7 linked regions of the Homo sapiens genome follow. The protein of the gene in region 6 interacts with the protein of the main gene of each other region in a biochemical or structural test. Each region holds a gene or a part of one and is shown on either strand. Other genes may lie near its edges.

Region 1 (3,500 bases), on a different chromosome or scaffold from region 6:
ATGCTTTCCACAAATAATCTATAAACTAGATGTTGAGAAGCGGACTATATAAACATATTCATGATTGCATGTTTAAAATGCAAGGCATTCTAAAGAGCAAAACCAATCAAAATCAAGGCCCATTGTAGTTTGCTTTTTAAATATCCATTCTAGAGATTTTATATCAATTATATTAAATATGGATTTCATTTGCATTTTGAATAAAATCATGTTTAGGAATTTTTTTTGTATAACAGCTACACATTAATATTCTAAAATTATTTTTTGAGGAAAATGTTTTAACTTTGTCCCAAGTCAAGTTAACACTTCATTGCCTTGACCTCTACCTGAATGCTAAAGGAATTTTTGTACTATTAATAATTTATTAGAACTTTTCAAGTCCTACTTCTGTATTTCTCACCTTTTTTGTTATTAATATGTATTATTGACTTCCTGGCTTCTACTGACTTTATACCCCAATAGGTACAGATAACATAATATGCAGAGATACTGAGTCAATGCACGGCAAATGATAACCAAAGATCAGTGAGCATATATGACAAAGCAAGTAGAGTAAAATGTTAATGGTAGAATCTAGGTGGGTATATGAGTGTTCACTATAAAATTATTTCAACTTTTCTGTGTTTGCAAAACTTCTTATAATGAAATGGAGGGAAGTCGCCTAGTTAATATCTCTGCTTTCAAGAAATACAACAATCTAAGGAAGTTATGCGCTGATTTTTTTCCTAAAGTTATTAAAGAAGACAAGAAAGTGGAAACTGAATGAGGTCCCACAGGAGGGATAATACCTTTGTCCAATGAGACTCCTGAACAGCCAAACAGGAAAATGCAGAAACCATTGGCTTGTGCCCCAGTCTCCCTTGGGTCAGCTGGTGGTTGCTAATGTTGCCCACAATCAGATGGGGGTCATCACAGATGTCCTATGAATACAATAATTGGTTATATGAGAGTCTGGGAAGAGTTTCTCAAGAGTCACTGTGAGCTGAACTAGGCAGGACAGCCTTCATAGAGGAGATAAGGTTAGGGTTGAAAAATAAGTAGGATTTCCATAGATGGGATGAAGGGAAGGCTGAGGGGATTATAAGGAAAACCAAAAAACAGTTGATCATCTAGCCCCATGTTTGGAAGTGGCAGGAGAAATGAAAGGAGAGGGTGTCATGAGATTGGGTGCCATGCGGTGGTGAGGGCTCTTAGACATAGCTATCATTGGGGTTTGGGAGAGTTTTCACCACAGCAGTGAACTTTCCAAAAAAATAATAACTAGGAATTAGTACATTACATTCTGATCCTATTTTGCCAGGATGAGATTTTCTGAAGCACCTGTGCTTGGAAGGGAGATTGTATTAAAGAGACAAGGTCTAATGAAGGTTAACATTAATTCATCTCCTTCTCTAGGAAAACCAGTTAGGAGACCTTATAGGAAGCCCTTTTCTAACATAAAGCAAAAGCAACAGTGGTCTCCATAGCAACCAGATTTTTCTACATTTGTGGATGAATATAGATGACAGCAGCATTAATAGCAAGTGGTAATAAACCACTCACAGGAACACTTCAACCGACACTCTTCCCAGTGAAGGTCCTGAGGGGATCTGGGCAGAGTGGGGGCAGTATTTGTTTGGAATGTATGTGTGTATCTTCCCCCCAACATATTAACTGTGCCTTTCCCACTGGGAGTAGGAAAATGATACCTAAATGATACAATTATAACACAAAGCGATAGGGCACAGTAGAGTCATTTTCAAAGCATAATTCATGTCTAAAGGAAGAATCCCCATAATTCTCCTGATCACAGTCAGAATAGGATTCATAGTGTTGTTAACACTGGAGTTGACTAGAATTAGGCAGTTGGACAAGAGAGGGGTACGGTGGCATAACAGGTAGAGAGAAAGGCATGGGCAAAGGCATTGTGGCATACATGACACTACATAGTTGAAGACATAATTGGGTGACTCAGAGTATCAGCATTTGAAGAGTTCAAAGGCAGGAAATACCAATGCATTCTTGACTAGATGGAGAAAGCTTCACGAGGAGGCCATTGGCCGGTACCTTGACATTCTGCTTACGCAGCAGAAATAAATCCTTGTCTCAAATGGAATCTAGACATATATCCTTTTAAAAAGTATTAGAGACAGCTATATTTTTCTGGTCCTCAAACCTCTTTTTTTAATGGCCATAATTCTCCTTGACGAAGGGTCTGGTCTACAGAATGAAACATTCCATATATTCTTTAAAAGCCAAAATAACTCTGGAAAGAAATAGGCAGGCATTCTGGGCAAAGACAAGTCCAAGCTGGAGATTAACTGGGCATCCCTCTGCCAAAAGGAGATGGCTAGATAGGTTGTCAGCTTTGGATTCTCAGGTCTTTTTTTTTAGATGCATGCCTGGTAGTTCACAACTACTTTTTGTTTTAGGAGAATTTTCTATCTTAAAAAATATTTTTTATGGGCTGCAAACTGCCTTTGTTTTCACTTGTTGAACATAGAGCAGGTATGTTGGGTAAGTCAAACCCTGATGTTCTTTTTCTTCTCATTTTTTTGGCCTTTTCTAAAATGAAACTAAGCACAGTTTTTCCTCCCCAGGTCAGGTGTTTTCATTTTATTTTGAGCAAGATGTCAAAGTATAAAATAATTTCTGGCCAGGTGTGGTGGCTCTCGCCTGTAATCCCAGCACTTTGGGAGGCCGAGGCAGGTGGATCACCTGAGGTCAGAAGTTCAAGACCAGCCTGGTCAACATGGTGAAACCCCATCTCTTCTAAATATACAAAAATTAGCCAGGCGTGGTGGCAGGCGCCTGTAATCTCAGCTACTCAGGAGGCTGAGGCAGGAGAATCGCTTGAACCCGGGAGGCAGAGGTTGCAGTGAGCCGAGATCACACCATTGCGCTCCAGCCTGGGCAACAAGAGAGAAACTTCGTTCCAAAAAAAAAATAATGATTTATTTGACCTAGATAATACATATCATAGTTTCCTAACATGGAAAAACAATAAAGTGAACACTGATATATGAAAAAGTGTGCTTTTAGATTAATAAGGCAAATTATTTGCTAATTTTATGTAGAGTTATTAGTGGTTGGAGATACATTATGGTGTCTTGAATTTCCATAAAATTTTCATTTCACAGTAGGTATCTAGGCTTAGCCAACACTTTTGGCATGTCAACTTCTATTGAAGACATAAAGGGTCACATAAGTGAGCAAAAAGACATATAAACAATTCAAATTGAGGAATGGGGTAATTATTCTCTTCTTGACCCAAGATGGATATGATTATTATATATTATATGTGTCTATGTATATACATGTATGTACATATAATATATATATTAAAAGCTGTGTGAAATTCATGAGAGAATGTAAATTTGGGACCCCCCCCCCCACAACATTCCATTTCCTCTTATAAACTGGCCCATTCTCCAGTTATACTTTACCCCTTTTCATACGTGATGGCTATTTAACAATAGATTTAAAACATGACAAGTTAACAGTCATAGAATGTCAAAACT
Region 2 (3,500 bases), on a different chromosome or scaffold from region 6:
ATATCATCCAGGTTTCTAACCTTTGAAGAGGTGAGCCTCCTATTAACTAGATAGGTTATGATTATTGCATGGTCAAAATGACATTTAACTCGGGTCTGAAAGAGACATGACCACTCCACTATATTATCTATCTGAATGTTGAGATTCTTCATTGTATCATCATTGTGTTAGTCAGCAGCATAGTCTCTGAGAATCAGCTGTGGTAAAGCAAAGTCCCTGAAGCTGAAAGCTGGAGCTGGACAGGAAGGCTCTCTCTGAGCTATGGGTTGGAACTGGTCCTTTGGCCTTGGCCAAGAGGAGTTTAAGGCATAGGAAGGACCTTTCCCAGGTGGCTAAGAAAAAAAGCAAAGAAAAGAAAGATGGTTCCTAGTACATGAAACACATCAAATGCCACAAGAAATTGAAGACAGATAAGGTCTTCTGGGCTGCAGGCTAGACTAGAGGGACAGGATAGTGGAACAGAGCCAGAGACAAACACAGGTTTAAATTTTGGTTCTGCCTCTGCTAGCTATTCAGTCTTAGAGACAATACTTAATTTCTCTGAACTTCAGTTTCATTACTTGTAAAATGGAAATAATACCTAAATATCATGATGTGGTGATAAGAATTAAACTTAATCCTTAATGTAAAGTACCTAATACCAAGTCTTCATCAGAGCAGACACTCAACTGAATGGTTGTCATTGTTGCTGTTTGTTGTTGTTGTTGTTAGAAGTCTAACATTTTTCTCTGTTAACTGCTAGAGGTCCCTCAACAAAACAAATTAGGATATTTTCCTCCAATGTCCAATGAGCTATCACTGAAGGACAGCACTCCACAGTGGGAGCCCTTAGATCCAATGCTGGAATTTCCTTTATGTAAGAACCTTCATTTCTCCACAATCAACTTTGATCAAGTTGCTATGTCTGGAACAAAGCTCTCAGATAATTGTTTATATACAGTCTCAAAGTCATCAGTCTAGGACATGAGAGGTTCAGCAGTGAGGATAAAGGAAGAACTTGGTCAAGCAGACTGGGGCTGCTGGGTAGTAGGATAAGACAGGTTAAGGCAGAAGAGAACTTTCAAAACGTCTACAGAGCAGACAGGATGTGGCTCAAAGGGTTACCAGAGTTGACCTCTTGCGGCTAGTCTCTATATTCTCCTTCAAACAAGCCTTGACCAAAGGATGGGCCCTCATTTCATAAGCCTGCTAGACAGGAGAGTTCAGGAAAAGAGCTGAATTCTTGGGAGCTCAGGACACAGACCCCTGGCTTCACTCTTCATTGCTGATGTTCCTCAAGAAGAGATAGGCATCCAAGTCACACCAATCCTGACAGGTATGTCCAGAAAGAACATTTTCTGTCTAGATACCTTATGTAACAACCACTAGAGTCCCACCTCAGAGAAACAAGGAAGAATTAAAGGCCCTAGGAGACTAACTTAGAACAATCACACTGTCTATAAGCCATGGCTCTGGGATTCATACCCATGGGATCCCCAAGCCTGGCAGAATGGAAAAGGACAAATATGGCAATGGCAGTACCATTGCTACCTTATAAACTTAAGGAGAACTGTAGGGAAATTAGACCTCAATGTTACCTGAGGGAATACAGAGATTTTCACCAACACCCTGAACTGCGAACCTTTCCAGAATGAGGGAGCTATCCAGATGCTGGTAGGGAGTGTGTATCACCTGCATTATGAAAAGGACTTAACATAAGTCCAACCCACCCCAAGGCAGCCCAGGGGGACTAACTGGAGCAATCATGCATATGATTATGATTAGCATCCTAAGCCAGAGATATGAGGGTGGTATGTAACAAAGAGGGGTTTAGAGATACACACTGACTTGATCCAGGTGGCAGGGATTACTGAGGACTGCAGAAGAGTCAAGACAAGATCTACAGTTAAGGATGAGGTCAAAAAAGGGAGCAGTTATACTCCCTCCTATTGCTCTACAGAGCAGAAAGAGAAGCCACTGGATATAAAGGATATGTGAGGCTTCTGACTCACGCCAGGGGCTTGTCACAAATGTGAGCTGCCAAAAGACCAGTGCTGACTACTGTGTAACAGATGGGAAAAGCTGAGAATTCAGAAACAGTCATCAGTCCCAGAGATCATGACTAGCCTAGATGTGATTAGGATACACATGTCCCAAGCCTGCCTGTGTTTGAGGCTGGTGATGTCCAGGCCTTCAGCAGCAATAAACAGGATCTATAAGAAAACATGATTGACAGAGTGCCCGCCCTGAAGGCAAGATCCAGAATATGGGGCCAGCAGATATTACATTAGTGGAAGTGACATCAGAAGCCATGAGAGGAGAGACTCACAGCCCATATACAATGAGGTTGGCAGTGGAAGTAGGAGAAGGTGGTAAGAGACAGTCACATGCTGTGAAAGGAAGAAACAGGCAATGGGCTGTACTAATTAAGAAATGGACACAGGCTGCCTGGACAAAGCATACACAGGGCAAGGGAAACATGAGTTTCTGGTTTCTGAAGTCTCTCCCTGGATTTGTTGTTTCCCCAGCCCAACCAGCATCCCTAACTTCCTTAACTATCCCACTATGTCTCTCTTCACACTTTGTATATCTTACCCTCTCCAGACAACCTCCCTTTCCCTCCCTCAGTGGCTTACACATACCCTCATCCCATGAGGACAGCCCCTACACCCAATGCTTATCATGCACAATGGTTGCCTTGACCATGCCCCCATCATGGTCGCTCACAGAAAACCCTTCCCATCCTCCCACCACCACCCCAAGTAACTCACACTGGTGCAGGCACCCTCTCCCTCTCCTCCCACACCGTCACTCACAATAACCCCGCACTTCGGATCAAAAGCGAAGGTGCCACAAGTGAGGAGGTGAGAGGCATTGGCAATGGCGAGAATCTGGACAAAATTGTGACATTCGTCCTGGGGGTCAGAGACGGTTAGAAAGAATCAGAAGCAGCAGGTACGAGGAAGGGTAAGGTAACGTCAGGACAGTTAGATGCAGCTTTGGGATCAGAGATGATGGGTGATGGCATGGTGTTAGAGTCTCTGCCTGGGCCCATTGGTATGGAAGCATTACAGGGGACTGAGAGTCAGGGCTGGGCCAAGGTCTCAACTGACACTCAAGACAGGGCTCAGATTTACACCTACCTCTTTCTTGCCTTTCTTCCTACAGTTCTGTCTGTGAGCCTCAGGAACCATCCAGTCAATCTGAGAAAGGAGAAGTGATCATTTCACCCAGATTCCCCTAACATCAAACTCCCTCGATGTTAGAGGAGATTAAACTGTTCTATAACCTCCATCAATTTGGGAACTTCAAAAGTCCCCCTAGAGCATTGTTTTTCAAATGGAGGTCCCCACCCATTAATGAGTAATAAAATCAATTCTGAAATCATGACCAACATTATTTTTAATGAAATAGAATATATCAAAATGTATCACATATAAGAGGTAGATATTGTTTCAAGAAAGGTTTCTTTCAGTACATAATTGTGTACCACAATACACAGTATACACTGAGCATCCCTT
Region 3 (3,500 bases), on a different chromosome or scaffold from region 6:
CTGAGGGCCAGGGTATACCCCAGCCCTGGGGTGGGTGCAGAGAGGGAGTGGCCCTCCAGGAGCAGGAAGGCAACCTGCCCTTCTCAGATAGGAGCACACAATCTTTGCAGAGGGAGGATCCCCTGTGGTGACTCTATCCTTGTGTGCACAAACAGGCCACAGCAGTTTAGATCCTAAGCACAGGGACAGATCATCACAATATCGTGGCCATTTCTTCTATGCCTCCTTTGTGCCAGGCATAGCGCTGCCTAGCTATATATCTATCTCAACCTTCTGAGACAGGTACTATCTTTATTCCTATTTGCTGAAAGGCACACTGCTAGTAAGCGGTAGAACAGAGACTGGAACCCAGACCTGTCTAGCACTCCCAGCTTCCAAACACAGCATCACTCAGCCTCTCCAAGGAGCTGAGAACCACAGAAATGGGCTGCTGGATCTGGGTAGTCAGGCTGCACCTGCCAGGCTCTCCTGGTCTCACTAGGAGGTTGCAGGTGAGGGAAAGCTAACAGCATGGGGGGTCTGGTGTTCTGTTCCTTCAACTCTAAGCTGGCTCCTGGGCTTAGCTTTCCCTGCATGCAGGGCTGCAGGAGGAGAGCCACACTTCCTGCTCTCCTCTAAGCTCCAGAGCAGACCCCTTTCTTGCACTTACTCCATCTCCTCCACCCCCGGGTCAGCCCCGCTTTCTGAGTCAGGCCCTTCTCTGTTCCACGCCTGGCTAACCCATCAGCTCCAGGAGGAAGAGGGTTGTCTGGAAAGGCAGTATTTTTAGCAGAAGGGAGAGGGCAGAGCTGTTGCCATGGCTCAGTTGGCCACTCAGCATCTGGCTTGGCTTCCTCCCCAGCTCCCACCCCTGCCCTCCTGCACGCAGAGGCAGCCAGAGCTGCTCTCAAGCCCCCTACCCTTCCACGTGCCCACCGCACCCCAGCCCCCACCAGCTCCGGGCACACTTTCCTCATCCATCACCCCTTCTCTAGAGCTCAACCTTCTGACCCTCTGCTCATGCCACCCACCCCTCTACCCTTCACCAACACCCACCACAGCTCCCTGGGCCCTCTCTCCACCCATCCACATCTGAGCCTGTGCCCTAAGCCTGCCAGTGGGGCTCCACACAGGAGCAAAGCTATTTATCCTGCCTCTGCCCCAGGGTCTGTGCTTCCCAGGGGGTTGCAGAACAGCCTGGAGGATCCTTGGGCGTCCCTCTCTGTCAAAGGGAAGTGCCTGAAGCAAACCACATCCACACCCCGTGCAAGCACACCAGCTGCTGCAGCCTGCCTGGACAATCTTTTCTCAACCCTGAGAAACAAACACCCCACAGGTCTCTTTGGAGAATACCTCAGAGACCACATACCTCAAAAGGTGTCCAGGTCCCATCCCCTCCATTCCTCTCTCTCACTCCAGCCACCCCATGGGGAACCCCAGCAGAGCAAACAAAAAGACATATGGTGCAGTTTGGCTTAAGACCCCTCTGTAGAGGGATCCAGACCACCCTTCTTGTCCTGACATTGACCATCAGACACTGACAGCCCCCGGCCAGGGAGGAAGTTGGCCGGGGAGTGGGGAGAGACGGGGCACAGGAGGGGAACAGCAGCAGACCCTTCCTTCTGGTGAGGAGGGGCCTACAGAGGAAGGAGGACAGGGCTCCAGTCACAGAGGCAGAGATCTTTGAGAGCCACAGGGCAGGTTCCTGCTCTACTAGGGCCGCCCTTGTCTGCCCTGGCTGACCCGGGATGCCTGTCCCAGCCAGGTAGAAGTGATGCTTACAGTCACTTATGGGAACTGCCCAGGGTGCCTGATTATCATGCAGCACTGCACCCCCTGCTCATATTACCATATGTGTCAGATGGAACTGCTGAAACCATCGTTTGATCACAATAGGAGCTTGTGAGGCCAGCGGCCTGCGTGGGCAGCCACAGCCAGTCAGAGAAGGGAAGGTGCACTCCTGCCCCTTCTTATTGAATCATCTGTGCCGTCCTCTCCCTCCATCTCCCCAAATGCTGTCTCCATGGCCACCAGCCCTATACCTTAGTCCCTGCTTTCCCCACCACCACAAGAGACTCTGGAGTGACCGAGGCCTGAGCTGCCTTCTCAGTAGACAATGGTCCCCACTTGACATGTGATCCCATCTGGATCATCTCCTGGAAATGGGATACTCTACTACCAATGCTTCTACTCCCCATCATCTTCAAGGGCCAAAAGGTGGTGGGAAGAGGAAAAGAGAGAACAGCTTATTTTCAATGAAAAGAAGGTTTCCCTGTAAGGGGCTTATACTTCCTTAAACAGGATGTATAGTTTTGGATTTTGCGTTTAAGTATTTAATCCATTTTGAGTTTATTTTTTTACTTGGTGAGAGACAGGGGCCTAGTTTCATTCCTCTGCATATGAGTATCCAGTCTTTCCATTTACCGGAGCACCATTTACTGAAGAGGATGTCCTTCCCCCAGTGTATGTTGCTGCCTTTGTTGAAAATCAGTTGGCTATAAATATGTGGATTTCTGGGTTCTCTATTCTGTTTCATTGATTCATGTGTTTTTATACCAAAATCATGAGAAGTGTCTTTCAATGAATGAATAAAGAAAATGTGTTACATATACACAATGGAATACTATTCTGCCATGAAAGGGATGAAATGTTGTCATTTGCAGCAACCTGGATGGAACTGGAGGTCATTATGTCAAGTGAAATAAGCCAGGCCACAGAAAGACAAATATTGCATGTTCTCACTCATATGTGAGACCTAAAAATGTTGATCTAATCAAAGTACAGTAACGGTTACCAGAGGCTGGGACGGGTGTGGATGAAGAAAGATTGGTTAATGGGCACAAACATACAGTTAGAAGAAATAAGTTCTAATGTTTGATAGCAGAGTAGGGTAACTACAGTTAGCAAAAATGTATTGTGTACTTCAAAATAGCTGGAAAAGAGGGTTTGGAATGTTTCCATCACCAAGAAATGATAAATGCTCAAGGTGATGGATATTCTCAATATCCCGACTTGATCATTATACATTCTATGCATTTATCAGAATATCACACGTATCCCAAAAATGTACAAATATCTGAAACTGATAAAAATAAACAAACAGGAGGTATAAACGGTCAGCACATTCATCTTCTGCACCCTTCTCTTTTCGATGTGTGGAGGTTTCTTTCTAGGAGAAATCCTATCCCATTCAGCAGCACTAGACAGGACAACTTTGCAGAGTCCCACCTTGCTGGAGGCCCAGCTGTCACCTGGCTTTGCTCATTGGAAGGCCTGTACTGTTCCCCAGGCTCTGCAGACGCCAGGGAGCAAAGGTTCTGCCTGGGGGAATTAAGTGGACAATGGGTCAATAAGAGGTGTCCACCTTGGCCACGGATGGGAAAGTGGGCTGGGCAGAAAAACAAAATGGAAATGCAAATTAGAAAAAGAGGGAAGGTGAGAGTTGTTGGAGAATGAGAACAAAGTGTTTTACTTAGAAGAAAACAGAGGAAAAGGCAGAACAGCAGCAAAATGAAGACAAT
Region 4 (3,500 bases), on a different chromosome or scaffold from region 6:
ATTTGTGGCACATAGCTAAAGCAGTGCTGGGAGGGAAATTTATAGCACTAAATGTTTACATTAGAAAAGAGGAGCATTTCCCACAGTGTGATGATTTCACACTGCATGCCTGTATCAAAACATTTCATGTACCCCACAAATATATACACCTACTATGTACCCACAAAAATGTTTTAAAATAAACTGCTATTAATTGTTTAAAAAGAAAAAGAAAAAGAGGGAGGGTTTCAAATCAAGACTCTAGACTCCCACTTGACTGTAGTAAAAGGAAAGCATAATAAATCCAGAGCAAGCGGAAGAAAGGAGATAATAAAGGTAGGAGAAGAAATAGGTCAAATCAAAACAGAAAAATAATAGAGAAAATCAATGAAAGAAAGAGCTTTTTCTTGGACAAGATTAATAAAATTCACCTTTTTTTTTTGAGACAGAGTCTTGCTCTATTGCCCAGGCTAGAGTGAAGTGGCATGATCTTGGCTCACTGCAACCTCTGCCTCCTGGGTTCAAAACATTCTCCTGCCTCAGCCTCCCGAGTAGCTGGGATTACAGGTGTCTGCCATCATGCCCGGCTAATTTTTGTATTTTTAGTAGAGATAGGGTTTCATCATGTTGGCCAGGCTGGTCTCAAACTCCTGACCTCAACTGATCCTCCTGCCTCAGCTTGCAACATGCTGGGATTACAGGTGCGCACCACCACACCGGGCTAATTTTTGTATTTTTAGTAGAGACAGGATTTCACCACGTTGGCCAGGCTGGTTTCGAACTCCTGGCCTCAAGTGATCCACCCATCTCAGCCTCCCAAAGTGCTGGGATTATAGGCATGAGCCACTGTGCCCAGCCTAAAATTGGTCTTTAGAATCTCTACAAAAACTGACAAAGGACAAATGAGAGAAGACACAAACTATCAATGTCAGGAAGGAAAATGGGCTATCACTACAGACCCTGCAGACATTAAAATGACCTTAAGGGAATACCGTAAATAACTCAGCTCACATAAATTTGATGACTTAGATGAAGTGGACCAATTCCTCAAAAAGCGCAAACTACCATGATCCACCTAATGGGAAACAGATCATTTGAATCACATGAGAATCACACTATAACTATTTATCAGATTGAATTTGCAATTTTGAAGCTCCCTGCTAAGAAGTCTCCAGGCCCTGATGTGGAGAATTCTAACTTTAAAAGAAGAATTAACACAAATTCGACGCAACTTTATCCGGAAAACAGAAAAGGAAATAACACTTCCCAGTTAATTTTAAGCACCTAGGTATTACCCTGCGACCAAACTAGACAAAGACAGCATGAAAAGACAACTACAGACGAATATCCCTCATGAACACAGACTCAAAACCTCTCCCAAAATATCAGCAAATAGAATTCTGTGATAAGAAAAAAATTATACACCTTGAACAAGGATTCCAGGAATGCATTCAGTATAATCCACCATATTAACAGGGTAAAAAGAAAAATCACATAATTATATCAATTGATGTAGAAAACGCTTTTGACAAAATTCAACACCCATTCATAATAAAATCTCGTTGGAAAATAGAAATAGACGGAAATCTCTTAATGTGATTAAAAGCATCTACAAAACACCAAAGTTTACATTATACTTAACGGTGAAAAACTGAATGTTTTCTCCCTAAGATCAGGAAAAAGAAAGATGTCCACTCTCATCACTCTCATTCAGAAGATGACTGAAAGTTTTAGCCAGTAAAATAAAGCAAGAAAGAAATACAAAATACAGGGAAAGGAAAGACTTGCAAGCAGGAAATGAAAAAATAAAACTATCCCTACTTGCAGATGAGATTATTGTCTACATACAAATTCTCAAAGAATCTACAAAAAAAAAAAAAAAAAAACCTCCTCGCACTAATAAGTGAGTGCAGCAAGGACACAGGATACAAGATCAACACACAAAAGTCAATTACATTTCTATATACTAGCTATGAATGGTTGAAAACCAAAATTAAATGAAAAACGAAATATGTAGTTGTAAATCTAATAAAACATGTACAAGACTTACGCACTGAAAACTACAAAACACTGATGAACTAACTCAAATAAAGTCTAAATAATAAAGAGGCATATTGTGTTCATGCATTGGAAGATTCAACATAGTAAAAATGTCAATTCTCCCTAAATTGATATACAGGTTTAATGCAATTCCTATCAAAACCCTAGTAAGATATTTTTGTGGGCATAGACAAGATTATTCTAAAATTTATATAGAAAGGCAAAAGAACTGGAATAACTCAAACAAGTTTGAAGAAAGATAATAAAGTGTAAAGAATCAGTCTACCTAACTTGATAACTTATTATATAGCCAAAGTAATCAAGACTGTATTGTCAGAATAGACACAGACATGAGTAGAACAAAATAATTAAAAAAAAAAACATAAATCAATCTGCACAAATATACCCAACTGATTTTTTTTTCTTTTGAGATGGAGTCTTGCTCTGTCACCCAGGCTGGAGTGCAGTGGCACGATCTCAGCTCAGTGCAACCTCTGCCTCCTGGGTTCAAGCAATTCTCCTGCCTCAGCCAACTGATTTTTTGACAAAGGTTGAAAGCAGTTCTGTAGAGAGAGTGTAGATGTTTCAACAAATGATGCTGAAACAATTGACTTCCGCAGGCAAAAGAAAAAAGAAAAAAAAAACCTTGACCTAAACCTCACATCTTACTTATATAGAAATTAACTCAAAATATTTAAAACAGTCTTAAATGTGAAATATAAAACTGTAAAAGCTTAGGGGAAAAAAAGCACAGGAGAAAATCTTTAGGACTTCTAAAGTGGGAAAGAGTTCCTAGACTTGAAACAAAAAGTATGAGCCATAAAAGGAAAATATAATAAAATGGACCTCATCGAAGTTAATTTTTTTTTTTTTGCTCTGTGCAAACCCCTGCTTATAATAAGAGAATAAAAAACTAGCTACAGATCTGGAGAAAGTATTCACAAACAACATATCTGACAAGGGACTTATATTTAAAATCTATACAGAACTATGAAAATTTAACAGTTAAAAAAAAACCAACAACAATCCAATTAGAAAGTGTGCAAACACATGAAGCAAGTTATCACCAAAAACGGTATACAGCCAGCAGATAAGCACACGAAAAGGTGTTCAACATCTTTAGCCACCTGGGAAATATAAATTAAAGCCACAATAAAATATCACTTCACACCTGTCAGAATGGCTAGAATAAAAAATAGTGAAACAGCAAATGCTGGCGAGGATCTGGAAACACTGCCCACGTTGCCAGGATCCATTTCGGTGTGGATGTGAAGTGGCACAGCCATTCTGGAAAAAAGGGTGGCCATTTCTTAACAAATCAAACATGGGACTATTATTCAACCCAGCAACTGCACTCCTGGGCATTTATTTCACAATGAAAACTTACGTTCACACAAAAGCTTGTACATGAATGTTTCTAAAGCTTTATTTGTAATAGTCAAAAATTGGCATCAGCCCAGATGCCCTTCAACAATGAATAT
Region 5 (3,500 bases), on a different chromosome or scaffold from region 6:
CTCTCCAGTAGCTGGGATTACAGGCACACACCACCATACCCAGCTAATTTTTGTACTTTTGATAGACACGGGGTTTCACCACATTGGCCAGGCTGGTCTCAAACTCCTGGCCTCAAGTGATCCGTCCGCCCCAGCCTCCCAAAGTGCTGGGATTACAGGCATGAACCACCATGCCCAGCCAATTTAATGTTATTTAGTATAACAAAGAAAAAAAAGAAATCTAAATGCCCAACAAAAGGTGAATAAGTAAATTATGATATAGCCATACTTTAGGAATAATGTAGAAAGGACCTTAAAGTATATTTTGGGCCAGGCGCGGTGGCTCACACCTGTAATCTCAACACTGAGAGGCCGAGACAGGTGGTCAGGAGTTCAGGACCAGCCTGGCCAAGATGGTGAAACCCCATCTCTACTAAAAATACAAAAAAATTAGCCAGGCGTAGTGGTGGGCACCTGTAATCCCAGCTACTTGGGAGGCTGAGGCAGAGAATTGCTGGAGCCCAGGAAGTGGAGGTTGCAGTGAGCTGAGATTGTGCCACTGCACTCCAACCTGGGTGACAGAGCGAGATTCCACCTCAAAAAAAAAAAAAAAGTATATTTTGTAGGAAATATAGACGTATCTCACACATTAATTCATAAAGACTAGAATGAAACACCAGTAATAAGTGTTTATCTCTAGATAATAGAATTACATGTGATTTTATTTTCTCCATAGTCCTTTGCATTTTCCTATTTTTCTACATGGAGCATGTATCACTTTTTTTAATAAAACAAAAAGCTTATATCTTTAAAAAGTTACTCTCTTCTCGTCTATGCTCCTAAAACATTTTGTACTTTGTTGACAGCCCCTGGCACACGCTGCTCTGTACTCTACCTAGTCAATACGTGTCTGCAGTTTCTTGAGTTCTGCTTGTATCCTTCCCCAGCTCCCAGCACTACACTTTGCACAGAGGAGGTGCTCGATGAACTGCACCAAAGCACTGCTGGGGTGAGAAGATGGTCACAGAAGGCAGAGGCCTCCAGACTCTTAACAGAACCCACCAACAACCATCCCTTGTACGTGAAGGGTCAGGTCAGACCCATAACAGAAAAGGACCTACTTCCTTCTACTACTTTGCTAAGAAACCTTTAGTTTTTTCTAGATATCCTGTTAATTATTAGAATTTTCTGGCCAGGTGCAGTGCAGCAGCTTAGGCTTATAATCGCAGCATTTTGGAAGGCCAAGATGGGAGAATCACTTGAGCCCAGGAGTTCAAGACCAGCCTGGGCAACATAGAAAGATCCCATCTCTATGCCTCAGGGATATCAATAACAAAACATAAAAGAAGAAATACAACATAAAAAAGAATATAACAAATTTTAAAAAGAGAGAGGCTCTGATCTCTATAAAAATAAAAGAAAAAAAGAATTTTCCTTGAGTTGCTTTTGTGTCGTTTGAATTAATTAATTTTATTTATTTATTTATTTATTTATTTATTTATTTATTTTGAGACAGAGTTTTTGCTCTCGTCACCCAGGGTGGAAAGCAATGGCATGATCTCAGCTCACTGGAATCTCTGCCTTCTGGGTTCAAGCAATTCTCCTGCCTCAGCCTCCCAAGTAGCTAGAATTATAGGCACCCACCACCATGCCCGGCTAATTTTTGTATTTTTGGTAGAAACAGGGTTTCACCATGTTGGCCAGGCTGGTCTTGAACTCCTGACCTCAGGTGATCCACCCGCCTCAGCCTCCCAAAGTGCTGGGATTATAGGCGTAAGCCACTGCACCCGGCCGATTTATTTATTTTTAACTTTAATTTTAGGCTCAGGGGTACATATGCAGGTTTGTTATATAGATGAATTACATGTCGTCGGGGTTTGGTGTAAAGATTATTTCATTACCCTGCTAATAAGCAAAGTACCCAAAAGGTAGTTTTTCTATCCTCACCCTCCTCCCATCCTCTAAACTCAAGTAGGCCCTGGTGTCTGTTGTTCATTTAGGGAAAAAAAAAAAAAAGAAGAAAGAGGAGGAGGGGGAAAAGGAGGGAAAACAGTCAACCAGTCTCTCTCTGGTTTTCTCTAAGAATTCATCCAAACTTCCCTCTGGGCATATGAGACTCACAAGACCCCCCAGTTGCCAGGGAGCTGGAGCCCTGCAATAGGAAGGATGAGTCAGGGCCTCCTCACCCCACCAGCTACAGCATACCCAGTTTAACTTCATGTTTTCCCCCTAATCTCTAGCACAGTGCTCAGAACATAGTAAACACCAATGTTTGTTGGATTAACAAGTGAATTTCACACTGCAATACAATTAGAACCTGGACCTAGAGCTTCCACTCTGGTTTTCCCCTTCCTCCCCACCACTCACCCTGTAGAGATTGAAGTAACTCCCATAAGGGTTGGCCTCCTCGTAAAGATCAAGAGGCTCCATGGGCCAGGGAAGTTCCACAGGGAAGGGCCTTTCCGGGGTTTGGGGTAGAACAGTTTAGAAATGTGTGAGCAAGAGGAAGGCTCTGTGAGGCCAACAACAGGCTGGGCTATGTCTAAATAGCCATCCTTGGCTGCACTTTCAGTGATGTCGATCAGCTGGCTCGGGTCCTCTGAGGATGGCAGAAAGTGGTAATGGCAGGGTAAGACAGGCTCGCTTTCACTCCCTGGCTCCCTCCCGCCCTCTCTGCAGAATTTCCGGTTCTACCTGCTCAGCTCCCCCGCCACCCCATCTTCCCAGTGCAAGGGAAGGTCGAGCCTTCCAGCGCAGGACTTACTTCAGGGGCCCAGCACCCACTTCCTGCCAGCCAGCTGCTTCCTCCTGTTCCGCCCCTACATTGTGAAACAAATGACGCAGCCGGACTTTAGACAGAAACCCTGCTTATCAGGGAGTCCAGGCAGATGAACTCTGGGTTCTCAATGCCAGGAAAACCCTAGTGTGTATCCACTCTCACAGTATGTGTTCACTCATACTGCTTTCCACAACCGTCACACAATAGTGAAACCTCATCCTCAATTATGTTGGACGCAAGGTCATCCAGGTCTTTCCTGAATCTCTGAAACAGAAACTGGTTTGAGTTTAGAGATCTCCAGGGTCTCTAGTCAAACCTAACAGATGTGATAAACAAGTCTCATTATTATCACATAAAATGTGCATGGCATTTAAATCTATTTTTGGGTGTGGTGGAAACGTGTGTTGCCCATTTATGTGTCCACAGAACAAGTGCAAATTGAACTCAGCTGACTTGGAGGGGGGTGGGATGTATCCTAACAGCCAAGGCCACAATCCCTAGAAACCAATATGGGCCAGGTGTAGTGACTCATACCTGTCATTCAGCATTTTGAAAGGCCAAGGCAAAAGGATCCCTTAAAGCCAAGAATTCAAGACCAGCCTGTACAACAGATGAGACCCTGTCTGTACTAAAAAAATAAAAAATTAGCCAGGTATGGCTCACCACTCACACTTGCCTATAGCCTCAGCTATTCAGGAGGCTAAGACTGGAGGATTGCTTGAACCCAGGAGGTCAAGGCTGC
Region 6 (3,500 bases):
TTCAAAAAGAAAAACAAATAATATAGGTGGATAAAAGATGAAAACAGACTGCCAGAATTTGTTAGTGACTGACTAATTTTTAAGGATAGTGAAACCAAGGATCAACTAGTATCACAAGCGGCAGTTACATTATCAGAAGATAAGAGAAAAGCTCAAAATTTGCATGATTTTTTTTTAACCTCTGTGAGTTACCTTGTATGAAATGCTATATGGTAAACCCAGAGTTGACCATAAAGTGATCCTTTTTTTCCTATTCATTCCAATTATACATTGATATTGACTGGGGTTCTCAATTTTTTTTAACTTGCCTCATTTTGATGATAGTGAATGATGATACAGTTTACAAAGAATACAGTCTTTAAATACGGGAGTAAGTTATCTTGAATTTAAATAGACTCTTCCAACTTATCAGCTGAGAGATCATATGATTAAGATCTAGAATAAGACTGCCTGGATTTAAATCCTACCCCTGATGCTTAAGTCACTGTGTGACCTTAGGGAAATTATTTAGCCTCTCTTTGCCACTGTTTCCTTATTTTTAGAATGGTGGTGATGATAATAGGACACATTCATATGGTTGCTGAGATTAATGCATGTAGTATGTTTAAAATAGTATCTGCCATATGGTATGTGCTCAGTGAATTATTGTTTTCTCATCTATAAAACTGGGGAAAATACTTGTGTACCTGTGTCTTAAGATTAGATGGTGATGCTAATAGCTCACATTAAGTAAATGTTTATTACTTGGCAGGCATTCTTCACATGCATTATCTCATTCAATCCTCCAAACAGCCACTATGTGTCACAGAACAAGTCATCTGAAGGAGTTTTAACAATGACAGTCTACTGCCTGAGAGAATGCCTGACACATAGTAGGTGCCTGTTACACAGAACTCCTCTGAACTATTACTTAAAGCTGAAATCCACATCTAAGTTCTTATTCTCCCTGTTTATTTTGCAAAAATTCAGGTCTGATGCCCTCTGTATAGCGGGTAGTTGTACAACATAGGTTGCACTGATAAAGATCTGGTGTTATTTTTAACCACAAACAAGGCAGAGTGTAAACTACCAAAGGAAAAAAAGCACACTTTTCCTATGGTGTAACGTTTTAATACTTTGAATTGGATATAATGGAAATGACTAAATTAGAACATAATTTGCATAAGTTTACATTTAATGTAGGCATTCCTGAGTATTAAAAGAGAACTTCGTGCCCCTTTTTTGGTTATAATAAATAGGCATGAAAAGTGAGAACACAGTGAAGAAAAAACTGTGTTAATGATAAGAAAATACTTGAGCAACTGCTACTTCATCATTGCTAGATTTGCTTGATAAAGTTTATAGTTATACATACTTTAAAAACTATCTTTACTATTGAAATTCCTACTGTGAAAATACCTTGATGATCATAAGCTGTAAATTCTCAAATCCCTAAACACTGTTCTGCATGAAAAAGAAATGCTGGGCCGGGCGCGGTGGCTCACGCCTGTAATGCCAGCACTTTGGGAGGCCGAGGCGGGCAGATCACAAGGTCAGGAGATAGAGACCATCCTGGCTAACACGGTGAAACCCCATCACTACTAAAAATACAAAAAATTAGCCGGGCATGGTGACGGCTGCCTGTCATCCCAGCTACAGGGGAAGCTAAGGCAGGAGAATGGTGTGAACCCGGGAGGCAGGGCTTGCAGTGAGCCAAGATCGCGCCACTGCACTCCAGCCTGGGCAACAGAGCAGGACTTCGTTTCAAAAAAAAAAAAAAAAAAGCTGACTTATGATTTTTGAAAATGCAAGTTTTCTTAGAAACTAACTATTGTGTGACAGTAGGCTATTCCATATTCTTGACTGTATAGTTCTCTTAACAAAAATCATCAGTATCACTCTGCATTTATATAGTTATTTATACTGGTAAGTATTTTTACTGTAACTTAAGCCCTACAACAATCCTGTCTTTGAAAGATGGAAATGGATCTGGAATAACTTGGTCACAAACAACCAGGACTAGGAATGTAGTTCATTGCTTCTGAGAAGGTATACAGCATATATAAATAACCTATTTTTCTAGTTCAGTGATGGTGATTTTCCAATGTGTGAAAATAATATAAAACAGGTATGTTTGAGTTTTCCTTTTCATCAACTGTTTTACATGAAAATAGCACATTATAATTTTTTTATAAAAATGATATATCATATTCCTTAGATCTTTGTAAGAAAGTGTTGTGAAAGGGTCAGATTTCTCCAGCATTCCTTTGAACACCCACCTCTTCGTTTAGGTTGCTGCTCTCCTGGATCGTCTTGATCCAAGCTAGCATATCATCTCTGTCTTCAGCCTGAAACAGGCATTCACAGTCGGACGTGGTGAGTCGAAACACATTTTTCCTCTTGGTCTCACTGTAAGAGATGTCTATCAAGCAAGCATTAACACTGATGGGCTGCTCTTCCTCAGACGGAGTCGTCTGCTCTCTTTTATCTTTGTACAGGTAAAGTGAATGACCCCGAAGGACAACATACATCTGTTTCCATGGCCGAATACTTCCACCAACTCGCTAGAAAACATGCGACAGTTCTTTAATAGTCAATATTTGGCTAAATCTTTGTGACAGGATAAGCACATTAAGCAACACCCTTCCTCTGCATTTACATATAACTAGTGTAGCAGGTGGCAGATTTAGCTCACTACATTATTTGTGAGGAGAGGAAGGATAAAAATTGTGGAGCATAAACTGAGTTAGGCAGTGTATTCATATCAAAGTCAAGGACTGTGAAATCCCAACTTTAGTTGGGAAGGCAATATGAACAAAGCTAATCAAATAAAATAAATGTAGCAAAACATATCAAAAACAGTAACGGAATAGAAAATTTAAAAATCGGTCCAAAAAACCTGTTGAGTGAAAGACTTACGTCTTAGAGCACACAAATGACAGATACTGCAGGAGTTCTCCAACAATTGTATACATAACTAATTAACAGAGTTCATCAACTTTATATGGCTAAGCAACTCTATCCACATCCAAAGTGAGCTTTCTTAAAATTTTTAAACTCTTCTGACAGCATTAAAATGTTCTTATATATAAGCTGTCCAAATATTATAGAAAATTTTTATGGCAAAGTCTTTTTCTGTTGAAATCTACTGGATGCATATATTGATATTTTTATATTTGTTTAACTTAATATTTTTAAAATAAAATGAAACAAAGTTATAAAGGTAATTTAAAATAAACTAAGAAAAGAGACATAAAAATTTAAAACTGATTTGCCACTTCCTAAAGGACAACGGAATAACCCATTGCTAATAAACTAATAAGAAAAGCAGAGTTCCTTTTTAAATACTTAGATTTCCTTTTTACATTGCCAAAACGTAAGACAATATATTCTACATGTAGCTGATACACAGGACAAAAAGTACCAAATTAATGCAATAATTAGAATTTTTTTAAGGAATACTTTTTTTAATGTAGAAAAATCTATTTATAAATGGTTTTTTTTTTCACTCTTTAATCTGG
Region 7 (3,500 bases), on a different chromosome or scaffold from region 6:
GGTGTGTCTCTAAGGAAGGCACACTTGCAGAGCTAGAGGTCAGGGTTTCATGGCTCGAAGAAGACTGGTGGGCTATATTCCAGCTGAGTGGTGGTTAAGGTTGTCTTCTGACCTTCCTGGGGGAGGAGAAACTGGAATGGAGGAGGACCCCCATTCCAGTGGGGTGCTCAAGGTTCTCAATCCCATATAGCCCTGCCCGTCAAGGGTACTTTCAGGTCCAGCAGAGGCTCCATTCAGAGAGCCAAGCAGCTGGTATCTGGATGCTGACGACTCTGGGAGCCTGTCACTTCTCCTAGACTGGCCTAGCCTTCTTTCTCACGAAGGGAAGCATGAATCCAGACATTGGCCCCAGTGTGCTTCATTTGTGTTTCCAGAGGCTGGTTGGGGGGCATGATGTCATACAATATGGGTGAAGGCCTTCTACCAGTGTCTCTGTTCCACTCTAGGGTTGGTCTTGACCTTGAATGGGAGAAGGATTAGACATTCTAGACAAGTATGAATGTGTGTTTTTTTTTTCAGGGGTGGGGTGGGGCCAGAGAAAATTGGATTCTGAGAAGCAAGGAAGTCTTACCTTTAGCCAAGACCTTGAAGCAGAGCATGAATGCATTTCTGCATGACCTTGAGATGGTGTAGCCAGACGCCCTGGTGTGGGGAGACAGTGTCTGTTTAGGCCTTTGTCCTAGTGTAATTAGTAACTCTCAAAAGTGTCCCGGTTTGGATGATAAAATATATGGCCATCCTTCTTTAAGACGACATCACACACTTTCTCTTAAAGGAATAGAGAGAGGAAGGGGGCATACTAGAGAGAGAAATCCAATTTTAGGGCAGGAAGGTGACTGAGAGTACAGCCTTTCCCCAGCTCTACTTTCACTTACCCCCACTTTCTGAAGGATAAAAACCTGGATCTTCTGAGTATTCCTACTACCAACATGACTACTACTTCTCTCTCAACTACTCTTACTCCCATCCAAGAACTAACCAGGCCAGACCCTGCTTAGCTTCCGAGATCAGATGAGATCGGGCATGTTCAGGGTGGTATGGCTGTAAACCCAACTACTTTTACTAAAGCTTCGATTGGCCAATATTTGAGACCTGACTATGGGCCAGATACTATGCTAAGCACTTGACATGCATTATCTCACATAATCCTCCAACAATCCTGTGAGGTGGGTACTGTTATCATCTCTGTCTTACAAATGAAGTAACTGAAGCCTAAGGAGGTTAAGTAACATGTCCAAGGCCACTCAGGTAGGAAGTGATGACATCATGATTCAAACCCAAAGGGCCTGGCTCTGCTCTGAAGCCTCTGGTCTTAACCACTGTTTCGTACCACCTCCATGGGCCTGTCCTCTGGTTCCGCAAGTCTGGAAACTTGATTCTAAGAGCTGGCCCATTTGCCAGGCAGTCAGCTGACTCACAGCTCTGGGACTTGCTGAAGGTGCTGCTGTCAGTTAGAGGCATTTCAGGCTTAGGAGGAGGGGGCTGCTGGTTGTAGCACTGCTGCTTAGGAGTAATGCTGCTGGTTGTCTTTTGCATGGCACTAAGGAAACTCTGTTTCCCAAGGTGTCCCCGTTACCTTCTTCCTTGCTTCATGCACCTTGTCTGAGGAGGGAGTTGAGGTGATTTGGGGTGGTGATAGGTGGGCAGAAGGTAGAGAACCTGAAGCCTATTTGTCTCTGCTTTGCTGTGTCGCCCTAAACCTGCATGGGACAGCCACACTCCCCATGGCCCTTGCAGCAGGGACTGGCCCTCAGCGTGAGATTTCAGTGAAAGGACAATTATCCAGCACCTGCTTTGAGCAGGGCATCATGCTCTGCTATTTTTCACTTAGGTGGGTAGTGTCCTCATTTATCTGTTGAGGAAACTGGTGATCAGAGGGGTTAAATCGCTTTTTTAGGATTACACAGTGAGATCCTGGGTCCACACTTGGGTCTGAATCCAGGGACTCTGCACCACCCTCCATCCTGAATCATGGAGAAGAGGAGCTGGGAATTGGATCATCTAAAACTGGGGGTAAAAGAGGAAATACTCTAGACAGAGGTCTTCCAATCAGCTCCTGAGGTCTGGATAGGAACTCTGGGGATCATCATCCTTATCAGCCACCTCTAGGCCTGCCTCTACCCCACACCCACAGGGGAAGACACCTGCTGACCCCTGAGCTGGAGGGGTGCTGGTTCTGGCCTGGAGAGAAGGAGGAGATGGGATCATGCACAGCCTCACTGGTGGAGGCGGGATGTTCAGAAGGAGTTACCTCCTTCCCCCGTGGAGCAGGAACATGTGCACTGACAACATCCCCCTACATCTGTGTCACAGGATAAAGGGTGGGAAGGGATGCCAGGTCTGCTGCCTAGATACAGGCAGGGAGGATGCACAGAGGGAATGAGCGGGATCCCCCAGGCTGGAGGACTCCAGGGAGGAAGAAGGAACTTTTTCTTGGTGGAGAGGCAGGGAATAGGAGAAGAACAGTTTTCTGACTGAGAGGATGGTCTGCAGCCCCTAGGCTGAGCTGCATCAGCTTCATTGCAGTCCCATTGAAGACTGTGTTTATTTTTTCCAATAATGTGTTAATTAAACATCGATTTCTGGGTGGAGGAAAGGGAATTGGATTGCCAGAGCTAAATGGAGTGTGGCAAATGGGGAGCGGTTGAGAGGGGCCCCAAGCTGGAGTCAGCATTCTCCAGTGGCACCCCAGGAGGGTCGGAAGGGAACTAGGGCTGCCTCTTCCCCTGGCTCCAAATTTGGAATTGTCAACTCTCCCAGAGCCTTCAGGAGGCACCTTTCCTACTTCTTGGGTGCCAGGGCAGGTGGAGAGGGCTCTTTGCTGAACCCCAGTTCAAGGAGGGAGGAACAATTATTCTCCACCTTCCTCAGCATCTTTGGTTTATAGAGACTGTGTACCCAGTCTCGTGTTCAGCATGTGACATATATTTGTTCTTTGTTTTTTTTTTTTTGTTTGTTTCTGTTTTTTTGTTTTTTTTTTTTTCTTGTTTTAGACAGAATCCTGCTCTTGTTACCCAGGTTGGAGTGCAGTGGCTTGATCTTGGCTCACTGCAATCTTTGCCTCCTGGGTTCAAGGGATTCTCCTGCCTCAGCCTCCCAAGAAGCTGGGATTACAGGCATGTGCCACGACATCCAGCTAATTTTTTTGCATTTTTAGTAGAGACAGGGGTTCACCATGTTGGCCAGGTTGGTCTCGAACTCCTGACCTAAGGTGATCCACCTACCTCGGCCTCCCAAAGTTCTGGGATTATAGGCATGAGCCACTGCACCTGGCTTGGTTTTTAAAATAAACATGGGGGAGGGCGCTTTTATATTCCTACTTTGGAGATGTGGAAACTAAGGCTTAGAGAAGTAACAAGTTCAAGGTCAAAGAGTTGGCAAGGTTTCACAAGAAAAGGAGTCCTAGCGGAGTTGAAAATATCTGAGGTTGGAAGAACAGCCACCTAGAGTCCCAAGCCCCTTTAAAGGGAAAAAAAGAAAAAAAATGAAGCATCCAGTAG

What was found.
Region 1: the proteins of ARHGAP21 (region 6) and CAPN6 interact in a test that uses a peptide from one of them, tested with the Homo sapiens proteins (one large-scale study listed by IntAct).
Region 2: the proteins of ARHGAP21 (region 6) and SEMA4F interact in a test that uses a peptide from one of them, tested with the Homo sapiens proteins (one large-scale study listed by IntAct).
Region 3: the proteins of ARHGAP21 (region 6) and TMEM178B interact in a test that uses a peptide from one of them, tested with the Homo sapiens proteins (one large-scale study listed by IntAct).
Region 4: the proteins of ARHGAP21 (region 6) and ZNF831 interact in a test that uses a peptide from one of them, tested with the Homo sapiens proteins (one large-scale study listed by IntAct).
Region 5: the proteins of ARHGAP21 (region 6) and F11R interact in a test that uses a peptide from one of them, tested with the Homo sapiens proteins (one large-scale study listed by IntAct).
Region 7: the proteins of ARHGAP21 (region 6) and NRXN3 interact in a test that uses a peptide from one of them, tested with the Homo sapiens proteins (one large-scale study listed by IntAct).

The regions. Positions count from the first base shown.
Region 1 is NC_000023.11:111,253,484-111,256,983, forward strand, and holds part of CAPN6 (calpain-6), read right to left. Parts: intron 921-3,500; coding exon 789-920; intron 1-788. UniProt on the Homo sapiens protein: Microtubule-stabilizing protein that may be involved in the regulation of microtubule dynamics and cytoskeletal organization. May act as a regulator of RAC1 activity through interaction with ARHGEF2 to control lamellipodial formation and cell mobility.
Region 2 is NC_000002.12:74,657,247-74,660,746, reverse strand, and holds part of SEMA4F (semaphorin-4F isoform 1 precursor), read right to left. Parts: intron 3,183-3,500; coding exon 3,123-3,182; intron 2,895-3,122; coding exon 2,796-2,894; intron 1-2,795. UniProt on the Homo sapiens protein: Probable cell surface receptor that regulates oligodendroglial precursor cell migration. Might also regulate differentiation of oligodendroglial precursor cells. Has growth cone collapse activity against retinal ganglion-cell axons.
Region 3 is NC_000007.14:141,434,064-141,437,563, reverse strand, and holds part of TMEM178B (transmembrane protein 178B precursor), read right to left. Parts: intron 1-3,500.
Region 4 is NC_000020.11:59,166,821-59,170,320, reverse strand, and holds part of ZNF831 (zinc finger protein 831), read right to left. Parts: intron 460-3,500; exon of another isoform or gene 1-459.
Region 5 is NC_000001.11:161,011,153-161,014,652, forward strand, and holds part of F11R (junctional adhesion molecule A isoform 1 precursor), read right to left. Parts: intron 1-3,500. UniProt on the Homo sapiens protein: Seems to play a role in epithelial tight junction formation. Appears early in primordial forms of cell junctions and recruits PARD3.
Region 6 is NC_000010.11:24,598,388-24,601,887, forward strand, and holds part of ARHGAP21 (rho GTPase-activating protein 21), read right to left. Parts: intron 2,544-3,500; coding exon 2,259-2,543; intron 1-2,258. UniProt on the Homo sapiens protein: Functions as a GTPase-activating protein (GAP) for RHOA and CDC42. Downstream partner of ARF1 which may control Golgi apparatus structure and function. Also required for CTNNA1 recruitment to adherens junctions.
Region 7 is NC_000014.9:78,176,873-78,180,372, forward strand, and holds part of NRXN3 (neurexin 3), read left to right. Parts: intron 1-3,500. UniProt on the Homo sapiens protein: Neuronal cell surface protein that may be involved in cell recognition and cell adhesion. May mediate intracellular signaling. Functions as part of a trans-synaptic complex by binding to cerebellins and postsynaptic GRID1.